2 separate regions of the Homo sapiens genome follow, and region 1 is linked to region 2. The links come from fine-mapping of genetic effects on gene expression. A gene starts in region 2. The other region holds a variant in brackets. All regions are shown on one strand. Distances are from middle to middle.

Region 1 (5,000 bases), 190 kb before region 2:
GGCGGTCTCTGGCCAATTTGTTAAAAATAATAAAATAAATTTTAAAACGACAAATATAGAGCTGCTTCATGTTTAAGAGGGTCTTGTACCCATAGAAACCCAGCAGGATCAACAAGACACCCCAGGAAAAAAGGTAAACGGCTGGCAAAGGTCATCTGGGCTCTAAATCTTAAGAGTGAAGGACTCTTTCACAGGGCTAGCATCAAGACACACAGCTAAGGGAATGGGGCCAAGAGGTTGCCCAAGCCTGCCAGTAATTATCCTATAAGACTCCCAATACAGTCTACTGGAACAGCTTTAGTGGTATTCATGAATTCCCTGAAAACCTACACAAAACTATTCTGTACATTTACGACTTGCTGGAAAGAGGGTTCATAGATTTTAAAAGACTCTTAAAACACTCAAGAATCACAGGTCTGAGCTGAAAGAACACAGTCTTTATTCCTCACACGTAGTTTAGGGCAGCTCGCCAGGACATATAAGATAGGGACTTGGGAACAAACCCCTAGCTAGTTACCCAGGTTGTATTTGCCTGTGTCTTCTGGGTATATCTCCCACAACTGCACAGAACTAAGTGACAGTGAAGATTCAGAATCCCAGAAATCGCTAACAGAAGATGCAAACACATACCTTTCCCCTCACCTATGTTAATACAAAACTATTGCCATTGATGTTTACGGTATTTTTTTCTTGCATGCAGTTACTGCCTTTACTCAGGGAATAGGGCAGACCGATGACAAAGGTAGGAGGATTATCACAGGAAAAAAATGTACAGGGAGTCCTCTCCCCTTCTCCTTCTGCCACTAACACCCAAACTCACTTTCTCTCACACAGACATACACACACACACACACACACACACACACACAGAAACATAATAGAGGTTGTCCACATTCATTTCCCAAAATATTTAGATCTTGATTCTTCAACTCAAAGTCATTTACTGCAGTGATTTTAAGTAATACTAAGCATGTTATACATGAAATTTTATCCATGGAAGGAGATTTGGAATTTGTTTTGGTTTTTAAACAATTCAAAAACAATGAGAAAATCCTTTAAAATTTACCTTCTAACTGCGACAGACTTAGAGGTACAGTTGCTTGTTATGACAGGTATTAACCTAGGGATGTGTGTGTGCTGTGAAGAACAACAAAAAACAGAGGTCAACACTTGCAAATACAAAAACAAAACAAAATTAAGAGAATCACTTCCTTACTAACCTACTTATAGCACATATATATTCAGATTAGAATGTCAGTGAGTTTTAAAAGAAAAAAAGAATTCACAGGATATTGTCAAAAGCCATTAGAAAATTTACAGAGTTAAGAACAGGCAACATGATGACATGAAGATAAGCCTAAAACAATCATTAGTATGAGGTCTAAATTATCTCAGCTGTAGACATCTGAGTGGGTTTAAAAGGAGTGGGTTTGAAAGGAGTCATCAGACCAATATATTTTGATACTATTTCAATAGAAATGTCCAATAATGACCTTGGGTTTAACAGTTAAAGCAGGCAGTGCAAGTAAGAACAGTAAGAACTTATAATACAAAGTAAATAACCAATAATCAAGAATATTCTGGATAGATTTTAGACAACATCATCAAGCCTCAAAGTTTCAAGAGCTGCCTCTGGGCAAAAATGACTTGAAAGTGGTGGGGAGGTAATGTGGAAAACCATTTTAAACCTTTGTGAACTATTAGATTTTGTTAAAAACCTGTGTATAAATTACTTGGATAATTATTTAAATTTAAACAAACAAGTGCCTAGAAAACCTAACCAAAGAGAACATTTTGTTTCGTGCTTATGTGCAATTAATTAAACTTTTGGGTGAACAGTAAAACCACAAGCACCAATACCTAAAACGGAAGGACTGGGACTAAGGAGGTAAGACTAAGAGTAATATCCGAGTAACAAGAATACAATATAAACTCAGAAGCAGACACCGGATGTTCGAACATTTTAAACCAATAGTGAGTTAACAATCAATACCTCATTAACTTTATAACACAACCATAATTCACATTATGGATTATAAAAAGCTCACATGCCACAATTAAGTAGGGGGAAAAGATGATATATATACAAAATTCCAATATAATTATGCTAATAAATTTAATGACTCAATATAATTATGTTAACAAAAATGCCTCTAATATTTATCAACCATCAGTATTTACCACTTGCTTATTTCAAGCATGGCCTATAACATACTTACCCGAATAATTAACCTAACAGCTACAACACCAGATGTGGCCATAATTTTGGCACTGTTTGGAATTAAATTAAAGATAGTTGGCATAATGGCTTCAGCTCCATGGTCAAACTTATTCCCCAGAACTGATGACAGATGCCTAAAACAAGAAAAGGATACTGGACTATAGTTATTTTTCTTAGAGACAGTGAAGCATATAAACCACTTAACATCTAGAGCCTTCATTTAAAGTTATCTAGAAAGGACAAGGGTCTGAGATTTCCGATGTGCATGTTAAGAACTTGGCAAATAGTTCTTAGCCCAAAAGTTTTGTT[G/GT]TTTTTTTTTTTAAAAAAAAACATTTCCAACTAGTCTGTGGAGCTTTTTGTTTGTTTTCTAGAGGCAGGATCTCACTACCTTGCCCACGTTGAACTTGAACTCCTGGGCTCAATCAATCCTCCCACTTTGGCTTTCCAAGTAGCTGGGACTCCAGGCACATACCAGCCCACCTGCCCCAGCTAGTCTTAAAATAGCAAACAAACTGATTATATATTAATAAAACACAAATATGAAAAAGCACCCTTGGCTCCTTTTTCTTTTTTCTTTTATCTTAACATAAAATATTCAGGCTTCAAAATCTGACTTCAGCCAAAACTTAAAACAGCTGCAATGCCTCCTCCTGCTGCTGCTGCTGCTTTGATATTCCGACATACATTCTAACACAAAGTTTTAATAGCTTTGATCACTAGTACACGTACAGCTAGAATAAAATCTTACTGCAGTAAATGCCTTTAACTTTATAACTACAGTACTCTTCTAGGAACAAACATTCTGATAAACACGCTATTGCCTGCCAGCAAAAATCAATGAAAAATCAGAGAAACAGGATTTTATAGAATTTCACTTTTCCATATTAATAACTGCTTCAAAGTTTGAAATAAAGACTTCAGAGCTATGTCACTGAATAAAATTTAAAATCTGTCACACTTCACATAATTGAGCAAAAAGTATTGTAAAACTACTGAAAGAAGTGTTAACTGGAATGGGTCTTGGAGACTAGTCAGAAGTTACATTAAAGAGACCCAGCTCACATGTTCAAGGAGACATCTCTGAAGCTCTGTGGTGACACTATTTTATGGTGAGAATATGGAGCATCGCAGTCCTTACCCCAACGTGATACAAGCCTCCCGCACTACCTGAGACCGCAGGTCCTTAGCAGAGAGTTTAAAGGCTCCATCCAAAAGACGCAAATGTTGAAAGAAGTTATCATACTCAGCAGCACCAGCCAAAAGTAAAGATCTAATCTTTTTTAGCTAATGGAATAGAGAAAATTCAGAAAAATAGAAAACAATTCTAACACAGACTATACACAACAAAAGAAGTCATCAAATACAAAAGAGATCATTGTTAAAGTTCAACTGATTAGAAAGCTTTCCCAAAAGAATTCAGCCAGTTAAATATTAGCTAATACAATAAACAAATCTACATATCACAAATAAGACTAAATAATTTTTAACTAGAGTATTTGTGACACATATACTATAATTTCTGCAAAAAAAGTTTTACATTTGAAATATCTTAAAGTATTTATAGATCCTACAACACTAATGATAAATAATTAAAAACTTTTGGCTTGTGAAAATCCCCTCCTAAGCTTACCTCCCCGCGACACCCCACTTCAACTGCCATTTATTTAAGAATCAAAGGAAGAAGCATTCCTATAGTATTTATTATCCTCCACTGAACCATTAAATGGCTGGTCTGAATTTGAAATACAATATAATGGCAATTGTACCACTTCTCTTCTTGCCAGCCAACCAGTAGAAAATAGCCTTCTCAGATAAGACACACCCTCACTTTAATGCTGAGCCCACTTTCCATTAATCTACTTTTAAAAATAAAGGAGACACAACTTTCTAGCAAGTGATAAGAAGAAAGAAAAGAATATTGGAGACATACACTAAAAATGCCACAAAAAAGCCACCTTAAAGGCAAACAATCACAGAATGAAATTTCTGCTAAGGTGAGAGTGGAGACTATTACCATACATTCCACAGTCAGGTCTTTGTTAAAAGACTAGGCGATTCATAAAGGTGTAAGTTGGTGTGTTTTCAAAATAAAAATAAAAGGAGACACTCTACTAAAAAGGTGAAGTATAAATATGATAATTTGAACTTAAAATATGTACTATTTAGAATTCATTAGAGCTGTCCCAATTTCACAATAAAGTATTTGAGATATTTAAATACATCTTATGAAAATGTAATCACATGAAGTCAACAGCTTACAGCATTTACTCTCTGCTCCCAATCATGCTTGTCATCAGATAATATTTCCCTAATTTTGTTTATGGATTCCTCAAGGTCTCGGCTGGAATAAATCTGTAAGCAAAATTAATTTACAATCAATATAAAAACATGCAGAATAAACAGATTATTTCTTAATTACATGAAGTCAAGAACATTAAGTATGGTAAAAGAAATTATTTTTTTAAGAAATACCTATGAGAAAATATCTGAACAGTTTTGTCTATAATGAGGATCTTTCTCACTACAAATGTGTACCCACAAGATTTGCTGCCATATGTGAATAACCCTGCCTCAAACATAGCTTTACTATAAACTTAACAGATGATTTCATGTACAAAGAGAAACAAGGCTAATGGGAAACAGCCAGTGATGCCTAAGTCATTTCTCACTTAGTATTATTTATAACATGACACTATACCTATAAATTTAAACAGTTTCAAATCTACTTTCTCATTTATCCCCACATCTTACCTAGAAAACAGGTAAGGTACAGGGTATA
Region 2 (5,527 bases):
CTAAGCTACTTAAGAAAATAAACAAGACGGAAGCAAAAAATCTAAATCTAGGCCAGGCGTGGTGGCTCACGCCTGTAATCCCAGCACTTTGGGAGGCTGAGGCAGGCGGATCATGAGGTCAGGATATCAAGGCCATCCTGGCTAACACGGTGAAACCCCGTCTCTACTAAGAAAACGCAAAAAAATTAGCCGGGCATGGTGGCGGGCACCTGTAGTCCCAGCTACTCGGGAGGCTGAGGGAGGAGAATGGCATGAACCTGGGAGGCGGAGCTTGCAGTGAGCCCAGATCGCGCCACTGCATTCCAGCCTGGGTAACATAGCGAGACTCCATCTCAAAAAAAAAAAAAAAAAAAAATCTAAATCTAAAACCAGTAAACATGGGCCGAGCGCGATTGCTCACGCCTGTAATCCCAGCACTTCGGAAGGCCAAGGCAGGCTGATCACAGGAGGTCAGGAGTTCAAGACCAGCCTGGCCAACATAGTGAAACCCTGTCTCTACTAAAAATACAAAAATTAGCTGGGCATGGTTGTGGGTGCCTGTAATCCCAGCTACTCAGGCGGCTGAGGCAGGAGAATCACTTGAACCCAGGAGGTGGAGGTTGCAGTGAGCTGAGATTGCACCATTGCACTTCAGCCTGGGCGACAAGAGTGAAACTCTGTTTCAAAAATAAAAATAAAAATAAATAATAAATAAAACCAGTAAACAAAATATAACACACTTAAATGACAAACTTCATGTTCTTCTGGCCAATCATTTCTCAACATCCCTGTCAAACTATTTTAAGGGTCTGAAATCTTGCTCTATAAAAAGCAAGTTCCCATCATCTGAACTACACTTAAAGAGATTCTATCCCACTAGTTACTTAAGCATAATACACCAGGCTTCAGAGTTTTACTTGCTATCAATTAAAAAAAAAGTTTACCTCTTTTACATAAATAAAGTGGAATCTGTGGGTTAATTCAAAAGCCTGACATACTAGGAGATCTGGGTTTTCCGTTCTAACACAAATTTATGGTGAAAACTTAGCAAAAGCCTTTTCTGTATTTGCCAATTCAGTTGTAACACAGAGATACAATATTTGACACCTCCACCACCAACAAAGTCTCCTCTAAGGAGTCCTGACTTTGGTTAACCTTACCTGGGAGAATTAAAAGCTATGGCTGAAAACTCCTTCATAAAAACTAAAACTTTAGAAGTCTAAAATGGTGTTACAAGGTAGCCCATAATAAACAATGAATTATAGAAACTGAGATTTCAGTAACAACTGCTAAAAAGGTGTATTACACAATTTAACAAGATAACCAGATCATCAAAATTTAAATTTCTTAACAAATGTAAAAAATAAATAATATTCAATACTCTGAGGCACTGTGCTACTTTTTATCTATATGGTCGCAACATCAATGTTGCTATTCTCCCAATCCCTTGATGAGCAAACGGAGCCAATATCCAGGATCCCTCATATCGAGAGGTCAGTTACCGTCGTAAATAATCGTAGTAATAAAAACAATTTCTAATGCCAGAATTGAAAACGGACTGTGGCACCCAAATAGGGTCCAAGGTACATGGCGGCATGAAACTATTTCTCGCTTCTGACTCTTCTGCATCACGGTCTCCCAAAGGACTAGAGAATCTGAAGCTCTCATTGCCACATCTACAAATGAAAGTATCATGTTTAAAGAGCTCACAGGTTCTACGAATGGTCAGTATTTAATGAACGCACCCCACTACACAGAAACTCACCCAGCTGCAAACTCAGCTGCAAACTCACCACAGCGTGCTTTCAGACTCCACATTAATTTTTTTTAATTTTAGAAGCAAACAACTATTTTAAAAATATTATGTAATAATTTAAACTCTGGAAAGCCCCATACTCATCCCAGCAGCTCGGAAAACGGAAAGCAAAATTCGATTAGCTCCATTGTACCTAGCCAGGCTAACGTGCAAGATCACACACTCATCTTCGTCAGAGCGTCTCTGCCAATACCAAAGAACAACAAAGGCAAGTTGAGAAGTCTGCACAGGCTTAACTCAGCACTTGTTCGCTTTCCCAGCTTCAGAAAGAAGCTCTTCGAAGGCCCCGGGAACCAAGGGGACCTTGTGCATCCCATCAAGCCGGCCGCTCCGCTCGGCGCCGCTCGCGCAGCTTTTGTCTGGCCCGGTTGGGAGCCCAGGACGGGAGCCCGGGCCGCCCGCCTCCCGGCACCCCTTCTCTCTGGATCTTTCTTCACACCCATCACTCGCCAATGACTAGTTGTTGTGGGTTTCTCTCCCTCGCCCCCTCCCTTCCTTTCAAACGCGCCCCGGGCTCGCTGGCTTCTCCCACCCGGCAGGGGAGACTCGGGTTAGGAAGGGGGCCCGGGTGGGGTCTGGAAAAGGGAAACAGAGAGGGGCACACAAAGCCCGACTGACCCCAGGGCCGATCCCCTCCCTCTGCAAAGCAGCCTGGGCTCAGCGACCTACTGGTTGGATAAACAACCCTCGCATCCCGCTCCTCGCCAGGCTCCCACCTCAGGGCCGCCCCATCCCCCCAAAGTGCACCCAAGAGCCGATGACAGCGCTGGACATCGCCCCCACCCAGACCCGGCGCCCGCCACTGCGCGGGAGGGGCCAGGGCCGCGAGAGGGCTCGGGTCTGACCCTCCGCCCCCTGACCGGGTACTTACAGCCCTGTTTTTCGTTACTGTTGCCGCTGCGGACCAGAGAGCCGCCGCCTTCTCCTCCACCCCAATGAGGTTAAGCGCTTGGTGCGGGGATTAAAAAAAAAAAAAAAGAAAAAAAAAAAAAAGACCGAGAGAGCGAGAGAGACGCCGAGGGCGCCTGCGCAGTGCGGTCACCCTTTTTCTTCTTACCGCCACCAACCCGGGTACACCATAGAGAGCGTAAACCGAGACCAGAGAGGCGGCTGCCTCTCTATGGTAACGCCCCGCGCAGGCGCTGGCCTGGCCGTGTTAGGCTTCGCTGGCGTAAAGTCCCCGGGAGCTTTGCCCCTCACGGAGAACGTTAGTTGACCCTGATGGGGACCCGTAGGGTAAAGGTTTTGTTTTTGTTTTTTTTTACGGAAAAGGTTGTGGTTAGGCCCCTTGGAAAGTTGCGACAAAACTCGAGTTAGACAAGGAAGGTCGGAACTAAGTGGCCACAGCAACAATGCACCAGCAAGCAGGGAGCGTGATAGGAAGAGCTAAAGAGGAATCGGGAAACCCTGGGTAAAAGTCGTCCAAGTGGAACTTCCTTTGGTCGGGGGTCTGATACTCGAAGGAAACGGTCTTTCACTTCTGGGTTAGGGCGTCCGCCCAGAGGGCGACTGCAATGAAGGAAATTGTGCCCTGCGACTTCCCGTAACAGAGCTGTGTGTCCACGCTCCCTTTTCCGAGCAGGCGCGGACGCTTGTGCCGGAAGTAAACTTGTTAACGGTTCTTTGCCTTTTGGGGAGGGGAGACAGCCCAGAGAAGGCTTTGGAGACCCTTGAGTCGGCCAGCGAGCAGGGTTTCTTACTTGAGCGCCTCCACAAATAAACGCTCCTTCGCTCCTCCGTCGCGTGCGTTTCCCTGGGATAATAAGTGGGAAAGTGGTGGCTTTTATTTTTTTGAGACAGGGTCTCACCGCCGTCGCCCAGGCCGGATGGAGTGCAGTGGCGCGATCACGGCTCACTGCAGCCTCGACTTCCCAGGCTCAGGTGATCCTCCTGCCTTAGCCTCCCGAGTAGCTGGAATTACAGGCGTGCACCACCCCCCCCCAACTACTTTTTGTATTTTTTTGTAGAGATGGGTTTCACCATGTTTCCCAGCCTTGTCTCAAACTCCTGACCTCAAGTGATCCGCCGTCTTGGGTCTTCGAAAGTGCTGGGACAGCAGGAGTGAGCCACCGCATCTGGCCCGGAAAGTGTTTTGGAGCGTAGAAAAATGCAAATTATAGGGCTGCCTTCAAGGATCCCGAAGGACCCACAGATTTGCCGCATCAGGCTCCTATGCACGCCGGTAATTTGATGTGTTGAGATGCACTGCCCAGTGCGTTGTTTTTACTGGAGGAGCTTGTGTGCGGAGCTCCTTGCTAGTGTATGTGTTGGGATGGGAGAGAAGTGCGGGAGAACTATGAGATAATGCCCCCTGATCCTCAGGGTCTTAGGAGGTATGGTCGGAGAGGCTAAGCTAAAGTATGAAAGCCGTGTGTAGGCCCTTCTGTGTAGTGCAGAAAAGGTAGAGGTATGTGATTTGAAAGAGTAGGGATGACATGGAGGATGCGACTCCTGGTTGGATCTATAAACTAATGTCTTTGGAACGAAAGCACATGCAACCTTTTGAAAATGGATGGGTGATAATGAAAGACCATTCCAGAGAAGAAACACCATGGTGCAAAGGCTCAAGAGGCATACTGGAAGTACAATGAAGAGAGCAATCTAACTGAAATGGGAAAAAAAGAAACAAAGAGTAAAAAGTAAGATTTGATGAGAAAGATGGAATCGATTTTTAAATTTTTTTATCTACACAACAAAATTTATTATCTTAACCATTTTTGAGTGAATAATTCGTTAGTATTAAGTATATTTACCTCGTGCGGCCAGTCTCCAGAATTCTTTTCATCTTGCAAAACAAACCCCGAACCCATTAAACAATTTCTCATTCGCCATTTTCCAGCTAGCCTTGGTAACCTCCATTCTAGTTCTGTCTCTGTGAATTTGACTGTGTACCCCGTGTAAGTGGTATCATACAGTATTTGTATTTTTGTGACTGGCATATTTCACATAGCATAATCTCCTTGTGGTTTATCCATCTTGTAGCATGTGTCAGAATTTCCTTCCCTTTTAAGACTAAATAATATTCCATTGTGTGTATATACCACTTGTGTTATTTCCACCTTTTGGTTATTGTGAATAATACTGCTTCAAACATGAGTGTACAGATAACTCTTCAAGATCCTTTTAGGGTAATACAGAGATAGTAAGTTATCTTGATTGTTCACTGCCAGTTACAGACCAAACTCCTTGTTCTCCTTGTGCTCCACTTCTCAACCACTGCACTTGGCTAGTCTTAAACAAAAAAAGAAAAACCCTAATTTTAATAGCTTGTGGGGACAGACGCAGTGGCTCACGCCTATAATCCCAACACTTTGGGAGGCCGAGGTGGGTGGATCACTTGAGGTCAAAAGTTCGAGACCAGCCTGGCCAATATGGTAAAACCCTGTCTCTACTAAAAATACAAAAATTAGCCGGGTACGGTGGCACACACCTGTAATCCCAGCCACTCAGGAGACTGAGGCAGGAGAAATGCTTGAACCCAGGAAGTGGAGGTTGTGGTGAACGGAAATTGCGCCGCCGCACTCAAGCTGGGCGACAGCGAGACTCCGTCTCAAAAATTAGTATTAATAGAATGTGGGAGATTTTGAAACCAAGTATAGAAATTCATACTTTATATTGTTTAAGGTCCGTGACTAGGCATAGTAACATGATGAAAGAACTGTTTTGGGTTTGTTTGGTTTTTTTCCGAGACAGAGTCTCACTCTGTTGCCCAGGCTGGCGTGCAGTGGTGCG

Which allele goes with the higher level. Positions count from the first base shown, and alleles are read on the strand shown. Sizes are in standard deviations (SD) of each study's normalised expression.
For the expression in skeletal muscle of the gene that starts at base 2,757 in region 2, GT is the low allele of the variant in region 1 and G is the other (small effect, 0.28 SD a copy in FUSION).

The links. PIP is the estimated chance that this variant, and not a neighbour inherited with it, causes the effect. A credible set is the group of variants that fine-mapping cannot tell apart.
Region 1: its variant is the best candidate, but not a certain one, in a credible set for the expression of CLASP1 in skeletal muscle (FUSION, PIP 0.66).

What each region holds. Positions count from the first base shown.
Region 1 is chr2:121,456,621-121,461,620 of GRCh38, forward strand. CLASP1 (cytoplasmic linker associated protein 1) reads right to left here. Exons shown (of 41, transcript NM_001395891.1): 11 at 4,481-4,573; 12 at 3,360-3,505; 13 at 2,220-2,355; 14 at 1,067-1,137. Among named protein-coding and RNA genes, the nearest start is that of CLASP1-AS1, 71 kb to the right of the region's middle. The variant G/GT (reference allele first, on the strand shown) is at 2,531.
Region 2 is chr2:121,646,706-121,652,232 of GRCh38, forward strand. It overlaps CLASP1 (cytoplasmic linker associated protein 1), which reads right to left and starts at 2,757. Exons shown (of 41, transcript NM_001395891.1): 1 at 2,667-2,757. NIFK-AS1 (NIFK antisense RNA 1) reads left to right here and starts at 2,949. Exons shown (of 4, transcript NR_037857.1): 1 at 2,949-3,676; 2 at 3,763-3,977. RefSeq lists enhancers at 1,711-2,339, 2,340-2,966, 2,998-3,267.